4 separate regions of the Homo sapiens genome follow, and regions 1, 2 and 4 are each linked to region 3. The links come from fine-mapping of genetic effects on gene expression. A gene starts in region 3. Each other region holds a variant in brackets. All regions are shown on one strand. Distances are between the middles of the regions.

Region 1 (5,873 bases), 430 kb before region 3:
CAAAGTTTGCTAGAGCTGAAGCAAACCTGAGATTTAAGGTGCCGTCTTGGGCAAAAGAGGTGGCACCGACCAAGTGGAAGAAAAATACATTCAACAGGTTTATTACAAAGAACTTTTAAGCAAACATACCAAAAAACAAAACAAGACAAGCAGAAGATTGGAATAAATAATTTTCCAATGCAAAGGCATAGATGTATATTCAAACAAACAACAGCAAACAGAGAATCATGACTTCCCCAAATGGATAAAGCAAGAAACCAGTGACTGACCCTAATGAGATGACAATTTGTGAGCTCTAAGAATTCAAAAATAGCCATTTTAAGAAAACTCAGTGATTTTTAAGATAATACAGAAAAGGAGAGAAGATTCAAGTAAACAAAATCAGAAATAATAAGGGATATATTACAACTGACACAACAAAAATACAAACAACCATCAGAGAATACTATAAACAACTTTATGCACATAAACCAGAAAATCTAAAATAAATGAATAAATTCCTGGATACATACACTCTCCCAAGACTGAACCAGGAAGAAAATGAATCCCTGAGTAGACCAAAAATGGTTCTGAAATTGTCAGTAATAAATACCCTGCAAACCAAATAAAGCCAAGGACTAGACAGATTCAAAGCTGAATTCCACCAGAGATGCAAAGAAGAGCTAGTACCATTTCTACTGAAACTATTTCAAAAAATTGAAAAGGAGTTACTCCTCCCTAACTCATTCTATGAGGCCAGCGTTATCCTGATACTAAAACCTAGCAGAGATACAACAAAAAAAAATTTCAGGCCAATATCCTTTATTAACATCAATGCAAAAATTATCAAAAAAAATACAGGCAAACCTAATTCAGAAGCACATCAAAAAATTTATCTACCATGATCAAGTAGGCTTCACCCCTGGGATGCAAGGTTGGTTCAATATCCACAAATCAATACATATGATTCATCACATAAACAGAAAAAAGGCAAAAACCACATGATTATCTCAATAGATGCAGAAAAGACCTTTGATAAAATTCAACAGCCCTTTAGGTTAAAAACTTTTAATAAACTAGGTATTGAAGGAACATAATTCTAAATAATAATATCTATAGAAAACAAACCCGCAGCCAATATCATACTGAATGGACAAAAGCTGGAAGCATTCTCCTTGAAAACTGGCACACGAAAAAGTTGCCCTCTCTAACCACTTCTATTCAACATAGTAGTAAAATTTCTGGCCAGGGAAATGAGGCAAGAGAAAGAAATAAAGGGTGTCCAAGTAGGAAGAGAGGAAGTCAAACAATCTTTGTTTGCAGATGACATAATCCTATATTTAGAAACCCCACTGTCTCAGCCCAAAAGCTTCTTAAGCTGATAAGCAACATCAGCAGAGTCTCAGGATTCAAAATCAATATGCAAAAATCACTAGCATTTCTATACATCAACAACAGGCAAACTAAGAGCCAAATGAAGATAAAGTCCCATTCACAATTGCCACAATAAGAATAAAATACCTAGAAATACTGCTAACAAGGGAAGTGAAGGACCTTTTCAAGGAGAACTACAAACCACTGCTGAATGGAATCAGGGATGACAAAAACAAATAGAACAGCATTTCATATTCATGGATAAAAGTATGCAATATTGTTACAATGGCCATACTACCCATTTACAGAATCAGTGCTATTCCCTTTAAACTTCCATTGACATTCTTCACAGAATTAGCGAAACCTATTTTAAATTTTATATGGGAAAAAAAAGAGCCTAAGTTGCCATTCTAAACAAAAACAACAAAGCTGGAGGCATCACTTTGTTGATACCTGATTTCAAACTATATTAAACAGCTACAATAACCAAAACAGCATGGCACTGGTACAAGAACAAATAAATAGACCACTGGAACAGAATAGAGAACTGAGATTTAAGTCTGCATACCTATAAACATCTGATCTTCAACAAATCTGATAAAAACAAGCAATGAGGAAAGGATACCCTATTTAATAAATGGTGCTGGGAAAACTGTATAGCGATATGCAGAAAATTGAAACAGGACCCGTTACTTAAAACTTATACAAGAACTGGCTTGGCACGGTGGCTCACACCTGTAATCCCAACACTTTGGGAGGCCAAGGGGGGGTGGATCACGAGGTCAGGAGATCGAGACCATCCTGGCTATCATGGTGAAACCCCATCTCGACTAAAAATACAAAAAAATAGCCAGGTGTGGTGGCGGGCGCCTGTAGTCCCAGCTATTTGGGAGGCTGAGGCAGGAGAATGGTGTGAACCTGGAAGGTGGAGCTTGCAGCGAGCCAAGATCATGCCACTGCACTCCAGCCTGGGCGACA[G/T]AGTGAGACTCTGTCTCAAAAACAAAAACATAAAAATAAACAAACAAAAAAAAAACAAGAACTGCCTCAAGATGGATTAAAGATTTAAATATAAAACCCAGAACTATAAAAACCCTAGAAGAAAACCGAGGCAATACCATTCAGGACATAGGCATGGGCAAAGATTTCATGGCAAAGGTATCTAAAGCAATTTCATCAAAAGCAAACATTGACAAATGGGATATGATTAAACTAAAGAGCTTCTGCACAGCAAAAGAAACTATCAAGAGAGTAAGCAGACCTACAGAATAGGAGAAAATTTCTGCAATCTATGCATCTGACAAATGTCTAATATCTAGCATCTATAAGAAACTTAAATTTACAATAAATAAAACAACCCCATTAAAAAGTGCACAAAGAACATAAACAGATACGTCTCAAAAAAATTCACGTGGCCAACAAACATATAAAACAAAGCTCAACATCACTGATTGTTACCATGGAATATTATGCAGCCATAGAAAAAAATGAGCTTATGTGCTTTGCAGTAACACGAACAGAGCTTGAGGCCATTATCCTTAGGAAACTAAGCAGAAACAGAAAACCAAATATTGCATGTTCTCACTTATAAGTGAGAGCTGAATGTTGAGAACACATGAACACAAGGGGGAAAAAATACACACTGGGACCCATCGGAGGCTGGAGAGTGGAGGGAGGGGAGTATCAAGAAAAATAGCTGATGGATGCTGGATTTAATACTTGGGTGATGGGATGATCTGTGCAGCAAACCACCATGGCATATGTTTACTATGCAACAAACCTTCACATCCTGCACATATACCCTTGAACTTAAGATTAAAAGTCGGATAAATAAATAAATAAAATGCATAAAGTGGCTGAAAGGATATACTAAAGACTCAACTGTATGCTGCCTAAAGAATCCCAACTTGCCTATAAAGACATACATAGACTGAAAATAAAGGAATCAAGAAAGATATTTCATGCAAATGGAAACCAAAAAAGAGCAGGAGGAGCTTTACTTGCATAAGATAAAATATACTAAAAGTCAAAGGCTGTGAAAAGTGATAAAAGGCCATTATATAATAATAAAAAGGGAAATTTAGCAAGCAGATACAGTAATATTAATTGGCCTTGCACTCAACACCAGAGTACCCAAGTATGTAGAGCAAACGTTAATATATCTAAAGGAAGAGATAGATTGTAGTACAGCAATGGTAGATGTCTTCAACAGCTCATTCTCAATAATGGACAGATAATCTAGACAGAAAATTTTAAAAAATCACAGTTAAACTATATTCTAGACAAAAAAAAAAAAAAAACCTTGCTGAGATTTACAGAATATTTCAACTAAATGCTACAGAATACATATTCCTATCAGCACATGGAGCATCCTCCAGAGTAGACCTTATGTTAGGACACAAACATGTTGAACAAATATGAAAAAGTAGAAATTATATTATATATATTTTCTGACCACAATGGAATCAAATTAGAAATAAATAAACTTTGGAAACTACACAAACATATAGAAATCAAACAACATGTTCCTGAAGGTCAACAAGTCAAAGAAAAAAGTAAGAAAAAAATTTAAGAGGAAGTCAAATTGTCCCTGTTTGCAGATGACATGATTGTATATCTAGAAAACCCCATTGTCTCAGCCCAAAATCTCCTTAAGCTGATAAGCAACTTCAGCAAAGTCTCAGGATACAAAATCGATGTACAAAAATCACAAGCATTCTTATACACCAACAAAAGACAAACAGAGAGCCAAATCATGAGTGAACTCCCATTCACAGTTGCTTCAAAGAGAATAAAATACCTAGGAATCCAACTTACAAGGGATGTGAAGGACCTCTTCAAGGAGAACTACAAACCACTGCACAAGGAAATAAAAGAGAATACAAACAAATGGAAGAACATTCCATGCTCGTGGGTAGGAAGAATCAATAACGTGAAAATGGCCATACTGCCCAAGGTAATTTACAGATTCAATGCCATCCCCATCAAGCTACCAATGACTTTCTTCACAGAATTGGAGAAAACTACTTTCAAGTTCATATGGAACCAAAAAAGAGCCCACATTGCCAAGTCAATCCTAAGCCAAAAGAACAAAGCTGGAGGCATCATGCTACCTGACTTCAAACTATACTACAAGGCTATAGTAACCAAAACAGCATGGTACTGGTACCAAAACAGAGATATAGATCAATGAAACAGAACAGAGCCCTCAGAAATGACGCTGCATATCTACAACTATCTGATCTTTGACAAACCTGACAAAAACAAGCAATGGGGAAAGGATTCCCTATTTAATAAATGGTGCTGGGAAAACTGGCTAGCCATATGTAGAAAGCTGAAACTGGATCCCTTCCTTACACCTTATACCAAAATCAATTCAAGATGGATTAAAGACTTAAACGTTAGACCTAAAACCATAAAAACCCTAGAAGAAAACCTAGGCATTACCATTCAGGACATAGGCATGGGCAAGGACTTCATGTCTACAACACCAAAAGCAATGGCAACAAAAGTCAAAATTGACAAATGGGATCTAATTAAACTAAAGAGCTTCTGCACAGCAAAAGAAACTACCATCAGAGTGAACAGGCATCCTACAAAATGGGAGAAAATTTTTGCAATTTACTCATCTGACAAAGGGCTAATATCCAGAATCTACAATGAACTCAAACAAATTTACAAGAAAAAAACAAACAACCCCATCAAAAAGTGGGCAAAGGACATGAACAGACGCTCCTCAAAGGAAGACACTTATGCAGCCAACAGACACATGAAAAAATGCTCACCATCACTGGCCATCAGAGAAATGCAAATCAAAACCACAATGAGATACCATCTCACACCACTTAGAATGGCAATCATTAAACAGTCAGGAAACAACAGGTGTTGGAGAGGATGCGGAGAAATAGGAACACTTTTTCACTGTTGGTGGTACTGTAAGCTAGTTCAACCATTGTGGAAGTCAGTGTGGCGATTCCTCAGGGATCTAGAACTAGAAATACCATCTAACCCAGCCGTCCCATTACTGGGTATATACCCAAAGGACTATAAATCATGCTGCTATAAAGACACGTGCACACTTACATTTATTGTGGCATTATTCACAATAGCAAAGACTTGGAAGCAACCCAAATGTCCAACAATGATAGACTGGATTAAGAAAATGTGGCACATATACACCATGGAATACTGCAGCCCTAAAAAATGATGAGTTCATGTCCTTTGTGGGGACATGGATGAAATTGGAAATCATCATTCTCAGTAAACTATCACAAGAAGAAAAAAACAAACACCGCATATTCTCACTCATAGGTGGGAATTGCACAATGAGAACACATGGACACAGGAAGAGGAATATCACACTCTGGGACTGTTGTGGGGTGGGAGGAGGGGGGAGGGATAGCATTGGAAAATATACCTAATGCTAAATGACGAGCTAGTGGGTGCAGTGCACCAGCATGGCAGATGTATACATATGTAACTAACTTGCACATTGTGCACATGTACCCTAAAACTTAAAGTAT
Region 2 (5,873 bases), 140 kb before region 3:
ATATTTTGATTTCCTTATCTGGCATTTTGAAGATTTCTTTTGCACAGAGTCTATTGCTGAAGAATTATTGTTTTAATTTGAGAGTGTTATAGTACATTTCTTTTTCAGGCTTTCTGCATCTATACGTTGATTTCTGAGCAACCAGGGGAATAGGGGATTGTTCTTATTTTTGAATTTACTTTCATTGAATGTGGAATTTTGTTCTTGAAGATATGACTATGATAATAACTACAACCATTTTTTAAGAGATAGTATAAAAAGAAATAAATGTTATAGTGCAAATGCACAAGAAACTGCAAGAGAAGTGGGGATGATTATTGAGTATAAAAAGAGAAGAAATAAGGTCTAGTGTTTGATAGCACAATTGGGTGACTATAGTTTAAAGTACTTTGTTGTATATTATAAAACAAGAGAGTGGAATTGGAAAGTTACACCACAAAGAAATAATAAATGTTTAAACTGTTGGATACTTCAGTTACAGATTTCATAACTACACATTGTATGTATGTGTCATAACATCTTATATATCCCATAAATACATACAACTATTATGTAGTCACAAAATTTAAAAATTTTAAATTAGGTTTGTAATTAAAAAAGAGCTACATTAACATAAAAAGTATGGGTTAGAAAATGGCCACATCCCTTTTCTACCTATTTTAAGTGATTATTAATGAGCAACATGGTAAAGTGGTTATGACCACCAGCTCTAAATCTGGCATCATAATCCCAGCTCTAAATCTGGTATCATAAAAAAGTAAGAGGAGAGCAGATTTTTCCCCCCTCTTTTTCTTTCCAGATTTGTAATTACAGGACCAGTTTTGACAGTCAGCATGTATGTTAACAGTTTATCCAAATTATAAGACAGTGTCTTCTGGAAGTGAACTGAAAATAAACTTTTTGTTTTTGATTTCAGCTTTAGTTTTGATCTAAAGTTCTGATTATAAACTTTCATCTCAGAGCCAAACCTCCTCCCCTTGTGAATTTGTATAAACGTTTTGTTCTGAGAGATTTCCAAAGTGTTTCTGCAAAGAAAACTGGGTATTTGAAAAAATTTTAAAAGTGACTTTTTTTTTTTTTAAGGTAGAGAGGGTCGTGTGAGTTCTGCCTTATGGAAGGGCTATTGTATGTGAGATATCTTATAAAAAATATTGTTAATCCACAAAATAAAGCTGTAAAATGGGTATCAATAGCTTAATTTTACGTATGAGTAAACTGCAGAATAGCTAAGTAACTTGCCCAAGATAACAAAACTAGGAGGTAGCCTGCACTTCAAATTTGGATGTGTCATGCTCTAACACAAATATTCCCATTGGCAGAAAACATTCCTATATTCACAAAAGTTAAATTCTCCAGAATGTTGAATTTATCTTATAGTTCTCAAAGTGTTCATATTAAAAGTCTTCAGCAAGCCTGAAAAAACCTGGCATAAGGGAAGCTTCTTTCACAAGTACCTGTATCAGCTTCTAATCATAGCAGATATGAAAAGGAAGGGAAAAATAAACAGGAGATGGGCAGATAGCTCTGTACATGTATTTTTAAAACATCTCAGGGGGAAGGTAAAGGTGGAACTTGACAACTGAAGTTACCTAATCACTTAAGGCTTTATTGAAACCTACATGTTCTGAGTACCTAGCATACAACATACTAAGATTAGCTTCATTCCCCTGTGTCCTTGTTCTTGCCGTGGTTTCCCCTCTGCCTGGCATAATCTTTATCTCTTCTCTACCTGGTTAAGGTTTCCAAATCATTCAAGATTTGGGAGACTGCAATTCCTCCATCAAGAAGCCTTCACTGATTTCCATATAGGAATGGGCACACTCTCTGTGAATAGCATATATGCCTATTCCGTATAGGCATTCACCAAACTGTGCTTTCTTTAAATATTTTACTATTTTACTTATTTTTTTCATGAGTTTCTTTTCTCTACACCTCTAACATATGGACCACAATAGAAGCTCAATAAATGTTTACACAAAGAAAAAAGTAAGTAAAGAAAGAGGTAAAAATACCTTCCCATCATGTCCCTTTGCTGACATCATTGCGATCCACAACTGAAAAGAGTACTTCATTTTCTTCAGTTTAACATGTTGAACTGAGGCTCCTAGAATAGTTTCAAGGTGAACCACAACCTTATAAAAGAAAGATATAAAAACAGACAAACATGATGAGAAGAGGAGATACTACTGAAGAGTGACATCAGCAAGATGGCAGAGCAGAAAGCGCCAGGCCCTCATTGCCCCATGGAAACACCAAAAAAAACAAAAAAACAAAAAAACAAAAAAACAAAAACAAAACAAAACACCCCAAAATATATAGAGCAAAGTAGTTTTGTGAGAACTCTTGAAACAAGCTAAGAAGCTGAAGCAACCAAGGAAATGCTAGAAAATTTCATGTCATTTCTGCTTGCCCTTGTCCCACTCCCTCTCTAACACAGCACTGAGTGTCTGAAAGAATCCATCAAATTATTGGTTCCTCCATTGGAATGAAAGAATATGAATGGAACTTGCTTGTAAAGTTCTAGCTTCTCTGGGGACAGTCTGAGGGACTGTTGTGTCTTTTCTGACTTGGAATACTAACTGGAATGATAGCATAGTTTAGACTGTAGGCTGGAAAATGCTTAGAGCAGTGGTGGAAGCTATTGCACAAATGGATTGCTGGGTTACTGCAGATATCTGG[G/A]TACCTGTGAGCAAGAGATTACATGCAGCGAAATAAAATACAACTTAAGCTCTGAGAAGAAGCAGAAGTAAGACACTGCTGATCATTGTTAGGACCCACCATACCACCCTTCTTTGCTTCTAGACCTATAACTAGACTCAAGTCTTGTCAGGTCATGTTTATTTTTCTAATTTATATAGACATAAATCCAGGGAATACGTATGACAATGGATATTAAAAGTATGGATAATTGTGGAAGAAACACAAACCTGAAACAGGCCAAATGTATTGATATGAGCCCAAGAAGGAGAGAGTCTCGATTTAGTGTTGCAGCTCAGTGTGTCAGAAAATACTCTAAAAAAAGTTTAGAAACACATAGACCAAAAGGTGTCCTACACTAAATGAAGTTGAAATTCCAGTCCTGCCTTGACATACTGTAGAGGAAAGAATCCAAATTCTTAGCGACATTTATCATTTAAGATCTTCTCCCCGACCTTGGGAGAGTACTGAGAACAATTCTTAGCCACAATTACGAGAAATAAATTTTTGTGGGAACCCTATCGTCTTTGAAGATCACTTTTCTCTGTAGGTCAGAAATTACATGGATTGATACCATTAAACTAAAAAAAATAAATTTAATAGAAATAATTGGATTCCCAAGTGGCAGGGGAAAAGTGGCAGCACTTAACTGACAAAAACTACATAAGCAGAAGAGTCAAAGCAGCAATCAGAATAATCTGACTGATGCAGACCTATGACATTGTTAGTTAATCATGTTTCTAGTAGTGAGACAGATAATAATTCCATTATATTCTTACTAAATCTGTATAAGCAGAGGAGTCCTAGGTCAATTGAACAAAATTCTAGCTTGTAACATAAAACAGAGTCATGGCCCTTCAATCAATTCCCAGGCTTGAGCCAGTTTACAGACTCACAACCCTTGAATGAAGGGAAGAATGGGTCCCCTGGAAGAAGCATCCCACCACACGCCCAACAACATATAATGTCAATCTTTCTCACAGCTTTCCCCAAAATAAATTATGGCATGGAAGAATTAGGGAAAAATAATCAGAAGTTTTGGAGAATATTGGACACAGGTCCTGAACTGATACTAATGCCAGGAGACCTAAAATGACACTATAGTCTACAATCAGAATAGTGGCTTATGGAGGTCAGGTGAACAATAGAGGTGTTTTTGTTTTTGTTTTAATATTTATAATTTAGGAGAAAGTAGTTTTGTTACATGGATATATTGCATAATGGTGAAGTCTGGGGTTTCAGTGTAGCCATCAACCTAATAATGTACATTGTATCCGCTAAGTAATTGTTCATCCTTCACCCCCTCTGATCCCTCCCATCCTTTTGAGTCTCCAGTGTCTATTATTTTACTCCTTATGTCCAGTTCTATACATTATTTAGCTCTCACTTATAAGTGAAAATATGTGGTATTTGCCTTTCTGTTTCCAAACCATTCACTTAAGACAATGGCCTCCAGTTCCATTGATGTTGCTGGAAAAAAAAAAATGACTTTATTCTCTTTTTTAATGGCTGAATACAATCCATTGTATATATACACCACATTTTCTTTATCCGATAATCCATTGATTGACAGTTTAGTTGATTCTATATCTTTTCTATTGTGAATAATGCTGGTATAAACACATGAGTGTAGATATCCTTTTGTATAAAATTTATTTCCCTTTGGTAGATAACCAGTAGTGGAATTATTGCATAGAATGGTAGTTCTATTTTTAATTCTTTGAGAACCCTATGTATTGTATTAATTACAAGTTATATTCATTAATATTTCTACTAAAGCTTATGAGTGCTTCCTTTTTTCTCCATACTTGCCAATATCTGTTATTTTTTGACTTCTTAGTAATAGCTACTGTGGTGTAATACAATAGCTAATCGAAATTTTAATTTGCATTTCATTGATTAATAATGTTAAGCAGTTTTTTATGTGTTTGTTGGCCATTTGTATGTCTTCTTTTGAAAAAGTCTGTTTATGCCATTTGCCTACATTTTAGCAGAATTTTTTTTTTTTTTTTTTGAGATGGAATCTCACTCTATGGCCCAGGCTGGAGTGTAGTGGCGTCATCTGGGCTCACTGCAAGCTCCACCTCCCAGGTTCACGCCATTCTCCTGCCTCAGCCTCCCAAGTAGCTGGGACTACAGGCACCCGCCACCACGCCCAGCTAATTTTTTTTTTGTATTTTTAGTAGAGATGGGGTTTCACCGTGTTGGCCACGGTGGTCTCGATCTCCTGACCTCGTGATCCGCCCACCTCGGCCTCCCAAAGTGCTGGGATTACAGGCGTGAGCCACTGCACCTGGCCTTGGCAGAATTATTTGTTGTTGTTGAGATGTCTGAGTTCTTTGTGGAACCTAGTTATTAATATTTTATTGGATGTATTGTTTGTAAATAGTTTATTCCATTCTGCACGTTGTCTGTTTATTTTGTTGATAATTTCTTTTGTTGTAAAGAAGCACTTTAGTTTAAGTCCCATTTGTCTATTTTTGGTATTGTGCATTTGTTTTTAAGGTCTTTGTCATGATGTCTTTGCCAAAAATGATGTTCAGAATAGTTTTCCCTGTTTTCTTCCTGTATTTTTATAGTTTTGGTCTTACACTTAAGCCTTTAATACATTTGTGATAATTTTTGCATATGGTGAGAGATACAGGTCCATATTTATTCTTCTGTGTATGGCCACCTAATTTTCCAAGAACCCTTTTTGAATAGGATGTTGTTTTCACAGCCTATCTTTTGTTGACTTTATCGAAGACCAGTTGGCTGTAGTTATGTGGCTTAATTTCTGGGTTCTCTCTTCTATTCTTTTGATCTATGTGTCTATTTTTATACCAATACCATGCTGTTGTAGTTTCTATGGCTTTGTAATATAATTTGAAATTAGGTAATGTGATGCATCCGACTTAGTTCCTTTTGCATAGGATTGTTTTGGCTATGCAAGCTCTTTTGTGGTTCCATATGAATTTGGTGATTTTTTTCTAATTCTGTGCAAAATTACATTGGTATTTTGATGAGAATTGAAATGAATCTGTAGATTGCTTTAGATAATATAGACATTTTAATGATATTCATTCCTCTTATTCAAGAGCATAAGATTTTTTCAATTTATTTTTGTCATCTCAAATTCCTTTAATCAGTGTTTGATAGTTTTCCTTGTAGGTATTTTTCACTTCCTTGGTTAAATG
Region 3 (5,873 bases):
TTGTTCAGTACCTTATATTTTTACCACGTAACATAATTCAGAACTATTTACGTATCTGTTCCTTTAGATCAACTTCATACTTATTTTTTATTACTTATCTAAAAACTGAAAATACTTTTTTCTAATTTTCTAAAGTATTGATTATATTTATTATAAATAGGTAACATGAGCACACGTTTCAAAAATCTGAAAGTAAAAAAGATCATGCAATGAAGCCTCTTTCCACCCTTGTCTCCTAACAAAGGAGATGAATAAAGGGTGGGACTTACGGTTTCAAAACCTCATTGACTTTCGGATCATCAACAAAATCAAATATCCAAATGACCAGGCTATGTATGATGGTGGCCATAAGTTGATGTATTTTTGGCAAGGCCCAACCTTGGATACCAACTGAGGCTGTGGAGGTTCAGAAGACATAGTGGTAGCCTGAATTCTGAATAATAGAAGAGTAATCATAGGGACACAAAAGCAAGCAAAAGACAGTAGACACTGACTCACAGGAAACTGACTGTTCAATCAGAGCTCGTTATCAAGAAGCATACTCTTCCATAAAGTGCCAACAAAAATTGAGTAAGATTTACCTGGCTCTACCACTTTCTAGCTGTGTGGCATTGGACAAGCTATTAGAAAGCTCTAAACTTTATTTTCCTTCTCTGTAAGATGATGATAATCATATGTACCTCAAAATGTCATTATGAAGATTCAATTTACAAAAATCTAAGTAAAATGTTTGCCTTATCAAGTGGCACATGGTAGGTGTTTAAGAAATTTAGTTGTTTTGCAGTAACAATATTTCCATGTTTAAAAATGTCAGAAACTAAGGGATAAATAAAACTTTGTATCCACTCCACTTCTCCCCTTCAGAACATTTTTATAAATCTAGATAAACTATATCTAGATCATCTCATCTCATGGGCAAGCATGAATAAAAAATGGCTAGTTACCAAAAACTTGATGATAGTAATAATAGTAATAGTTAACATTTATATAGGATTAGTATGCCAGACAATATTCTATAAGTTTTACATATATGAATTCATTTAATTCATCACAATAACTCTAAAAGGTAGATTCTATTATCAAATCCATTTTTCTTAAAGGACATCAGAGACACAAAAAGTTAAGAAATGCTTTTAAGGCCGGGCGCAGTGGCTCACACCTGTAATTCCAGCACTTTGGGAGGCCGAGGTGGGTGGATCACGAGGTCCGGAGATCAAGACCATCCTGGCTAACTCGATGAAAACCCGTCTCTACTAAAAAATACGAAATATTAGCCGGGCATGGTGGCGGGCGCCTGTAGTCCCAGCTACTCGGGAGGCTGAGGCAGGAGAATGGCGTCAACCCGGGAGGCGGAGCTTGCAGTGAGCGAAGATCGCACCACTGCACTCCAGCCCAGGCGACAGAGCGAGACTCCGTCTCAAAAAAAAAAAAAAAAAAAAAAAAAAAAAGAAATGTTTTTAAGATCACAGAGCTAGATCGTAGAAAAGCTAGGATTTCTGAACCCAGGGAGTCTGACTCTAGAGTCCATCCTTCTAATCATTATGTTACACAATCTTCTATGTGCCAGGTTCTTGATATGTATTATCTGCTATTGGTGTGGCACAAGGTCACAGAGCCATGAACAGACAGTCCAAAATTTGAAATATATCATCTTTCTACTATTAGGTTGGTGCAAAAGTAATTGTGATTTTTGCCATTAAAAGTAATGTCAAAATCTCAATTACAAAATCACAATTACTTTTGCACCAACCGAATACATCCCATTGCCTCCCTAACTGGTAGAAAAGCATGCATGAGTGGGTAGAGGCTGGGGAGGGGGTACGGCAAGAAGACAGGATATGTCTTTGAAAGGTAACCAGGAGTACAATACAAATATTAATAATTCATACATTCAGGAGCACATACTGAGATAGTATTTGCTGCATGCCTATTCTTTGTTAAGTAGTATTGTAGATTCTGGAAATAAAGCAATGACGAAAAACAAATGAAACAGCAGAGAGGTGAAAACAAGCAGAGTATAAATAAACAATACTAGACTGTAGCTCAAGATCTCCAGGTAACCAATCACTTATATGACAGAGATGAATAGTCCTGCCTGCACAATTCTATAGAGAACGAATGAGCTGCTTAATTTTTTTAATTTAGAACTTTCAACAATTTTTGTGCAAATCATTTTACTTCAGTTTCCTTATGCATAAAATATGAATATTGCCTATATAACTGCATCCGTGAAATAGAATATGTTTAAGTACCCAGGCAGAGTATTTCACATATACTATGCAATAAATATATGGTAGACGCAGCTTTTACTATCCTAGACCAAGTACTACTTTTACTTTAAATCAATTTTAAAAAGAATTGGTTGAATGGTAAGCAGCAGGTTGATCTGGGGCCTGTGAGAGACGGAAGAATAGAGAGAGAGAAAGGGAGAGGGAGAGAGAAAGAGAGAGACTGACTTTCCATAGCTGAGAATCAGTTTGAAATTCACACCTGCTTTACCCCACACACAGTAATTATGCACAAATAGGACAAATGGATAGGAAGGACTATGACGGTACCAAAATAGTCCAACCCATGCCCACAGTAAATGTCCTTGGTAAAAATAAACGTACTACAACACCCAGAAGTCTCCCTTCATCCCCAATAAATGCCTCTCCTAAGTCGCCCTAGTAGAGAATGGAAAGGAAACCACAACCACCGCCACCACTAAGCTTCCTGGATCCTGCTAAAAGACCTGTCCCTCCAGCCTCTTCTGAATTGCATTCTCACCTTTCTCTGTCGGATCAGCTTGGCCAGCTGCATCCCCGAAAGCAGAAGCAATGGTTCAGTCACCGGCCGAGGGGTCTTTGAGGCAAACTTTGGACCCCCTAAGACTAAAGCTGCTCGGCCTACTAAGCCTATGAGAAAGCCTAGCGCCCGCAAGAGGAACAACTGAATGCGGGCGGTAAATGAAGGTGCCATCGCAGCCTGGATTCCGCACGGTCCTAGTGCTTGAGGGTTACGTGCACCCTGGGGAAAGGACGAGAAAAGTACTAAGCAAAGAGGGACTTATGAAGCTTTTCGTTTACAAGTCCAGTGTCTACCCACAATTCCACAGGAGCTTGTTTATCATCACCTGCAGGGCTCCTAGCCAGAGATGGGGGCGGAGACTTCCCAGCAGCTGCCTGTGTGCAATGCTACCTGTCGTTAGTGCTGTTGTAACCCAAGACAGAAAATGCGTCATAAGAAAGAACACTGGCCTTGGAATTCCCCAGTTCTGCTACTGTGTAGCCCTGGCCAACCTACACTATATCTCCTAGTCAGTTTACTCATAAGAAAAAAAATGGGAATAACTACTCCTATATCAAAGGGTTACCATAAACACTAGATAATAAGTAAAAACATTTAGCACAATTTATGGTAAATAGTATAAGTGGTAGTTGTTATAGTTTATTTCAGCTGTGCTTGTGAAAAAAGTGTTGTAAGTATACCTTTGTATGCAAATATTCAGTATGCTCAACAAACAACTAAATGGCAAGTATATATATATTTTCCATATGCATATTATTTAATCCTTATAAGATCACTAACAGGTAGTACTGATGAACATCAAATCTCCAGCCCATCTGTCTCCTAAACTGGACACTTGAAATGCCTTTTTTGACATATCCATGTGAATGTCTTCCAGATCGTTCAAACTCAACAAGTCCAAAACTCATCCTTTTGTCCCCCAGACTGCTGCCCCTACAGGTCTACAAATGGAATTTTCATCCACCCAGTCAGCCATGCCAAAAATCTAGAATCACTTCAGATTCTTCCATTTCTCTTATTCTCATGACAGAATCCAGCCCTTCCTTCTCAACTCAGTCTGGCTCAGATCTCACTGAGGTTTACATGAACTTCTACAAATAATCTAGCTGATCACTCTGCCTTTATTTATAGAGTGTTCTTTCTAATATGTAAATCTGACAATATTACACCCCTGCCAATAACTCCGCAATAATTCTCCATTTTCCACAGATTCAAGACCCATCTACTTTGTCCAGCATTCGACTCTCATGACTGGTGTCTGAAAAACTCTATGCTTCATCCCTAACCCCTTCTATCCCTCACATGCTAAGCTCCTGACAAACAACTATCCGAAAGTTCTCTCTTCCCTCCTTATCTTTGCATCTGCTTTCCCAACCTCTTCATCTAGTTCAGGACAAGTACCACCTCCTCCAGTAAGTCTTCCCTGAACTTACAACTGGGTGTGATGCCACTCTTTTGTAACCCTGCACTCCACAGATTAACAAAATCATAGCACTTACAACCCTCTGTTATGTGTTAGGTTTTTGTGTCTATGCCCCATCTAGATATAAACTCCTCGAAGAACAGGGTCATTCTAATTCCTCTTTGTATTGCCAGAGCCTGACATAGGGCTTGATGAGAAGTCAATACAGGTTTGTAGGCTGAAGGTATGTGATTATGAGATAATGAGCGTTGAAGATAGGGATTCGAGCTTGGCATTTAAGGTCTTGGGTAGGTGAAATGACAACGTCATCCAGGTCACTGTCTTTTCACCTGCAGAACTTAGGTTGATACTGAAAGTGTCATCACAGCACTTCTAGCCTAATTCAAGCACCTGGTAGAAAGCAGGTTAATCATGACAGGCACATCTAGCAGATCCAGTAAAGAAAGCTGATAAAGCAGGTTGTCATAATCTAGGCTCCATTACAGTTCTGAGCAAAACCTGTTAGCTGAGTGAAACTTCCTTACCAGAGAAAGGTTTTGTCAAAATGAAAATATTTACTTTGCCCAACTTTTGTTACTTTATTTAAGTTGTAAATGACAAATATGTGAGCCTGAGGTACAAAGAATGCTCACTGATTGGGCTCTGACCAGACAGACCTGAATCCAAATCCTAGATCCAGCACTCATTATGTTTTTGACCTTGAACAAATCACTTAATGTCCCTAGGTGTGTTTTCTCATCTGTAAAGTAGAATAACAGCTGCCATATGGTGTTATGAAGATTAAATCACATATGGATGTAAAGCTTCTGTTTTTTTTTTACAATCTTAAATATTTTAATTTTATATTAATAGTTAGACCATGTTAAGTATATTGCCATTGTTGGCAACATATCACCAGAACATTTTTATCTTGCAAAATGAATACATACTATACATGAATCGACTACCTGTTTTCCCCATTGACTGGCCCTTTACAAATGCCATTCTATTTTCTCTTTTTAAAAGTGCAACTACTTTAGCTAACTCGTATAAGTGGATTCATACTTTTTATGATGGACTTATTACACTTATCATAAGACCATTAAGATTTATCTTTAAAATAAATGTTAAATTTCCTGCTTTTTAAAAGCTGAATAATATTCCAGGTTTTGTTGTTGTTGTTGTTGTTGTTGTTGTTTTGTTTTGTTATGATATGGTGTCTCATTCTGTCGCCCAGGCTGGAGCGCCACTGGAGTGCAGTGGCACCATCTTGGCTCATTGCAACCTTTGCCTCCCGGGTTCAAGTGATTCTCCTGCCTCAGCCTTCCAAGTAGCTGGTATTATAAGCACCCACCACCATGCCCAGATTGCAGGCTTTCTTCCCGGGCACGCCGCAGGATAAGGCCCATTAGCTTGGGACACTAACAAGGCTACCCCAGCCCTGCCTGAGTTCTCAGGCTGGAAGCAGCTCCACACTTCCCTGGGACAGAGCTCCCAGAGGGAGCAGGCAAGCTGACGTTTTTCCACGCTCATGTTCTCATCAGGCTCTGGAGGTAGTATAGAAGTTGGGGACTGACGCGAACCCACAGCACAGCGCAGTCACCTTAAAGGAAAAGCGGCCAGACTGTTTTCACGTGTGTCCCCACCTCCGCTGCTCTTCACTGAGCAGTGCCTCTTGACC
Region 4 (5,873 bases), 140 kb after region 3:
AATTTTCAACCCAGAATTTCATATCCAGCCAAACTAAGTTTCATAAGTGAAGGAAAAATAAAATACTTTACAGACAAGCAAATGCTGAGAGATTTTGTCACCACCAGGCCTGCCCTAAAAGAGCTCCTGAAGGAAGCACTAAACATGGAAAGGAACATCCGGTACCACCCACTGCAAAAACATGCCAAATTGTATAGACCATCAAGGCTAGGCAGAAACTGCATCAACTAACGAGCAAAATAACCAGCTAACATCATAAAGACAGAATCAAATTCACAAATAACTATATTAACTTTAAATGTAAATGGGCTAAATGCTCCAATTAAAAGACACTGACTAGCAAATTGGATAAAGAGTCAAGACCCATCAGTGTGCTGTATTCACGAAACCCATCTCACATGCAGAGATACACATAGGCTCAAAATAAAGGGATGGAGGAAGATCTACCAAGCAAATGGAAAACAAAAAAGGGCAGAGGTTGCAATCCTAGTCTCTGATAAAACAGACTTTAAACCAACAAAGATCAAAAGAGACAAAGAAGACCATTACATAATAGAAAAGGGATCAATTCAACAAGAAGAGCTAACTATCCTAAATACATATGCACCCAATACAGGAGCACCCAGATTCATAAAGCAAGTCCTTAGTGACCTACAAAGAGACTTAGAATCCCACACAATAATAATGGGAGACTTTAACACCCCACTGTCAACATTAGACAGATCAATGAGACAGAAAGTTAACAAGGATATCCAGGAATTCAACTCAGCTGTGCACCAAGTGCACCTAATAGACACCTACAGAACTCTCCACCCCAAATCAACAGAATATACATTCTTTTCAGCACCACATCACACCTGTTCCAAAATTGACCACATAGTTGGAAGTAAAGCAATCCTCAGCAAATGCAAAATAAGAGACATTATAACAAACTGTCTCTGAGACCACAGTGCAATCAAACTAGAACTCAGGATTAAGAAACGCTCTCAAAACCGTTCAACTACATGTAAACTGAACAACCTGCTCCTGAATGACTACTGTGTAGATAACAAAATGAAGGCAGAAATAAAGATGTTCTTTGAAACCAATGAGAACAAAGACACAACACACCAGAATCTCTGGGACACATTTAAAGCAGTGTGTAGAGAGAAATTTATAGCACTAAATGCCCACAAGAGAAAGGAGGAAGGATCCAAAATTGACACCCTAATATCACAATTAAAAGAAGTAGAAAAGCAAGAGCAAACACATTCAAAAGCTGGCAGAAGGCAAGAAATACCTAAAATCAGAGCAGAACTGAAGCAAATAGAGACAAAAAAAAATCCCTTCAAAAAATTAATGAATCCAGGAGCTGTTTTTTTGAAAAGATCAACAAAATTGATAGACCGCTAGCAAGACTAGTAAAGAAGAAAAGAGAGAAGAATCAAATAGATGCAATAAAAAATGACAAAGGGGATATCACCACCGATCCCACAGAAATACAAACTACCATCAGAGAATACTATGAACACCTCTATGCAAATAAACTGGAAAATCTAGAAGAAATGGATAAATTCCTCGACACATACACCCTCCCAAGACTAAACCAGGAAGAAGTTGAATCTCTGAATAGACCAATAACAGGCTCTGAAATTGTGGCAATAATCAATAGCTTACCAACCAAAAAAAGTCCAGGACCAGATGGATTCACAGCCGAATTCTACCAGGGGTACAAGAAGGAGCTGGTACCATTCCTTCTGAAACTATTCCCATCAATAGAAAAACAGGGAATCCTCCCTAACTCATTTTATAAGGCCAGCATCATCCTGATACCAAAGCCGGGCAGAGACACAACCAAAAAAGAGAATTGTAGACCAATATCCTTGATGAACACTGATGCAAAAATCCTCAATAAAATACTGGCAAAACGAATCCAGCAGCACATCAAAAAGCTTATCCACCATGATCAAGTGGGCTTCATCCCTGGGATGCAAGGCTGTCAACATACGCAAATTAATAAATGTAATCCAGCATATAAACAGAACCAAAGACAAAAACCACATGATTATCTCAATAGATGCAGAAAAGGCCTTTGACAAAATTCAACACCTCTTCATGCTAAAAACTCTCAATAAATTAGGTATGACGGGACATATCTCAAAATAATAAGAGCTATCTATGACAAACCCACAGCCAGTATCATACTGAATGGGCAAAAACTGGAAGCATTCCCTTTGAAAACTGGCACAAGACAGGGATGCCCTCTCTCACCACTCCTATTCAACTAGTGTTGGAAGTTCTGGCCAGAACAATGAGGCAGGAGAAGGAAATAAAGGGCATTCATTTAGGAAAAGAGGAAGTCAAATTGTCCCTGTTTGCAGATCACATCACTGTATATCTAGAAAATCCCATTGTCTCAGCCCAAAATCTCCTTAAGCCGATAAGCAACTTCAGCAAAGTCTCAGGGTACAAAATCAATGTACAAAAATCACAAGCATTCTTATACACCAATAACAGACAAACAGAGCCAAATCATGAGTGAACTCCCATTCACAATTGCTTCAAAGAGAATAAAATACCTAGGAATCCAACTTACAAGGGATGTGAAGGACCTCTTCAAGGAGAACTACAAACCACTGCTCAATGAAATAAAAGAGGATACAAACAAATGGAAGAACATTCCATGCTCATGGGTAGGAAGAATCAATATCGTGAAAATGGCCTTAATGCCCAAGGTAATTTATAGATTCAATGCCATCCCCATCAAGCTACCAATGACTTTCTTCATAGAATTGGAAAAAACTACTTTAAAGTTCATATGGAACCAAAAAAGAGCCTGCATCACCAAGTCAATCCTAAGCCAAAAGAACAAAGCCGGAGGCATCATGCTACCTGACTTCAAACTATACTACAAGGCTACAGTAACCAAAACAGCATGGTACTGGTACCAAAACAGAGATATAGACCAATGAAACAGAACAGAGCCCCCAGAAATAATGCCGCATATCTACAACTATCTGATCTTTGACAACATT[G/C]TATCCAACAGCTGCAGAATGTACATTCTATTCATCAGCACGTGGAAAATTCTATGTAATAGGCTATATGATAGGCCAAAAAGAAGTCTCAACAAATTCTTAAAAATTGAAATTACATCAAGTACTCTCTCAGACTAGAGTGGAATAAAACTAGAAATCAACTCCAAAAGAAATCTTCAAAACCATGAAAATACATGGAAATCAAATAACCTGCTCCTGAATGATCACTGGGTAAACAATGAAATCAAGATGAAAATTAAAATATTCTGTGAACTGAATGATAATAGTGAAAGAACCTATAAATTTCTGGGATACAGCAAAAGTGATGCTAAGAGGAAAGCTGATAGCGTTAACCTACGTCAAAAAGTGTGAAAGAGCACAAATAGACAATGTTCCTAATGTCACACCTCAAGGAACTAGAGAAACAAAAACAAACCAAAACCAAACACAGCAGAAGAAAAGAAATAACCAAGATCAGAGCGGAATGAAATGTAATTGAATTAAACAAAACATTACAAAAGAAAAATGAAACAAAAAGCTGGTTCTTTTAAAAGATAAATAAAATTGATAAACCACTGGCAACATTAACCCAGAAAAGAAGAGAGAATATCCAAATAAGCTCAATTAGAAATGAAATGGGGGATATTACAACCGACACCACAGAAATACAAAAGATCATTCAAGGCTGCTATGAACTTGCGCATAAACTAGAAAACCTAGAGGAGATGAATAAATGCCTGAAAAGATACAAATCTTGTAGCTTAAATCAGGAAGAATTAGAAACCCTGAACAGACCAATAACAAGCAGCAAGATTGAAATGGCAATTTAAAAATTACCAACAAGAAAAAAAGTTCAGGATGGGACAAATTCACAGCTGAATTCTATCAGACATTGAAAGAACATAGGTACAAATCCTATTGGCACTATTCCACAAGATAAAGAGAGAATCCTTCCTAAATCATTCTGTGAAGTGAGTATCACCCTAACACCAAAACCGGGAAAAGACATAACCAAGAAAGGAAACTACAGACCAATATCCCTGACTAATATAGATACAAAAATCCTTAACAAAATGCTAGCTAACCAAGTCCAGCAGCATATCAAAAACATAATCCACCATGATCAAGTGGGCTTCATACTAGGGAATCAGGGATGGTTTAGCATAAGCAAGTCAATAAATGTGATACACCCCATAAACAGAATTAAATACAAAAATCACCTGATTGTCTCAATAGATGAAGAAAAAGCATTTGACAAAAGCCAGCAGCACTTTATGATTGAAATCCTCAGCAAAATCAGCATAGAAGAGACATACCTGAATGTAATAAAAGCCATCTATGGCAAACACACAGCCAACATTATACTGAATGGAGAAAAGTTGAAAGCATTTCCTCTGAGAACTGGAACAAGACAAGGATGCCCACTCTCACCACTTCTGTTCAACATAGTACTGGAAGTCCTAGCAAGAGCAATCAGACAAGACAAAGAAATAAATGCTGTCCATATTGGTAAAGAGGAAGTCAAACTGCCACTATTTGCTGATGATATGATCAGATACCTAGAAAACCCTAAAGACTTTCAAAAAGCTCCAAGAACTGATAAATGAATTCAGCAAAGTTTCAGGATACAAAATTAATGTACACAAATCAGTAGCTCTGCTATACACCAACAGTGACCAAGCTGAGAATCAAATCAAGAACTCAATCCCTTTCACAATTGCCACAAAGTAAATAAAATACTTACAAATATACATAACTCAGAGGGTGAAAGACCTCTACAAGGAAAACTACAAAACACTGCTGAAAAAAGTCACAGATAACACAAACAAATGGAAATACATCCCATCCTCATGGATGGGGAAAATCAATATTGTGAAAAAGACCATACTGTTAAAAGCAACCTACAAATGTAATGCAATTCTCATCAAAATGACACCATCATTCTTCACAGAACTAGAAAAAACAACCCTAAAATTCATATGGAACCAAAAAAAGAGCCTGCATAACCAAAGGAGGACTAAGCAAAAAAAGAAAAAAAAAAATTTGGAGGCATCACATTACCCAACTTCAAACTATACTATAAGGCCATAGTCACCAAAACAGCATGATACTGGTATAAAAACAGGCACATAGACCAATGGAACAGAACAGAGAACCCAGAAATAAACCTAAATGCCTACAGCCAACTGAACTTCAACAAAGCAAACAAAAACATAAAGTGGGAAAAGGACAGCCTATTCAACAAATGGTGCTGGCATAATTGGCAAGCCACATGTAGGAGAATGAAACTAGATCCTCATCTCTCACTTTATACAAAAATCAAGTCAAGGTGTATCAAGGACTTAAATCCAAGACCTGAAAGTGTAAAAATTATAGAAGACAACATTGGAGAAATCCTTCTAGACATTGGCTTAGGCAAAGACTTCATGACCAAGAACCCAAAAGCGAATGCAACTAAAACAAAAATAAATAAGTGGGACTTAATTAAACTAAAATGCTTCTGCACAACAAAAGGAACAGTCATCAGAGTAAACAGACAATGCACAGATTGGGAGAAAATCTTTACAATCTATCCATCCAACAGAGGACTAATATCCGGAATCTCCTGGGAACTCAAACAAATTAGCAAGAAAAAACAAATAACCTCATCAAAAAGCGGGGTAAGGACATAAATACACAATTCTCAAAAGAAGATATACAAATGGCCAACAAACATAAAAAATGATCAACATCACCAATGATCAGGGAAATGTTAATCAAAACCACAATGTAATACCACCTTACCCCCCCCCAAAAGAATGATCATAATCAAAAAACAAAAACTAATAGATGCTGGTATGGATGTGGTGAAAAGGGAAC

Which allele goes with the higher level. Alleles are on the strand shown, and positions count from the first base shown. SD is a standard deviation of normalised expression in the study named. Not every link is listed here.
For the expression in stomach of the gene that starts at base 3,081 in region 3, allele G in region 1 goes with a lower level than allele T (small effect, 0.29 SD a copy in GTEx).

Evidence for each region. PIP is the estimated chance that this variant, and not a neighbour inherited with it, causes the effect.
Region 1: its variant is the best candidate, but not a certain one, in a credible set for the expression of FAAH2 in stomach (GTEx, PIP 0.76).
Region 2: its variant is the best candidate, but not a certain one, in a credible set for the expression of FAAH2 in whole blood (TOPMed, PIP 0.68).
Region 4: its variant is the best candidate, but not a certain one, in a credible set for the expression of FAAH2 in lung (TOPMed, PIP 0.71).

What each region holds. Positions count from the first base shown.
Region 1 is chrX:57,717,798-57,723,670 of GRCh38, reverse strand. No RefSeq gene overlaps it. Among named protein-coding and RNA genes, the nearest start is that of NLRP2B, 40 kb to the right of the region's middle. The variant G/T (reference allele first, on the strand shown) is at 2,332.
Region 2 is chrX:57,428,177-57,434,049 of GRCh38, reverse strand. It overlaps FAAH2 (fatty acid amide hydrolase 2), which reads right to left. Exons shown (of 11, transcript NM_174912.4): 8 at 2,013-2,132. Among named protein-coding and RNA genes, the nearest start is that of FAAH2, 140 kb to the right of the region's middle. The variant G/A (reference allele first, on the strand shown) is at 2,680.
Region 3 is chrX:57,283,914-57,289,786 of GRCh38, reverse strand. FAAH2 (fatty acid amide hydrolase 2) reads right to left here and starts at 3,081. Exons shown (of 11, transcript NM_174912.4): 1 at 2,770-3,081. The coding sequence starts at 2,961.
Region 4 is chrX:57,145,187-57,151,059 of GRCh38, reverse strand. It overlaps a transcript of FAAH2 not described here and a transcript of SPIN2A not described here. Among named protein-coding and RNA genes, the nearest start is that of SPIN2A, 11 kb to the right of the region's middle. The variant G/C (reference allele first, on the strand shown) is at 3,015.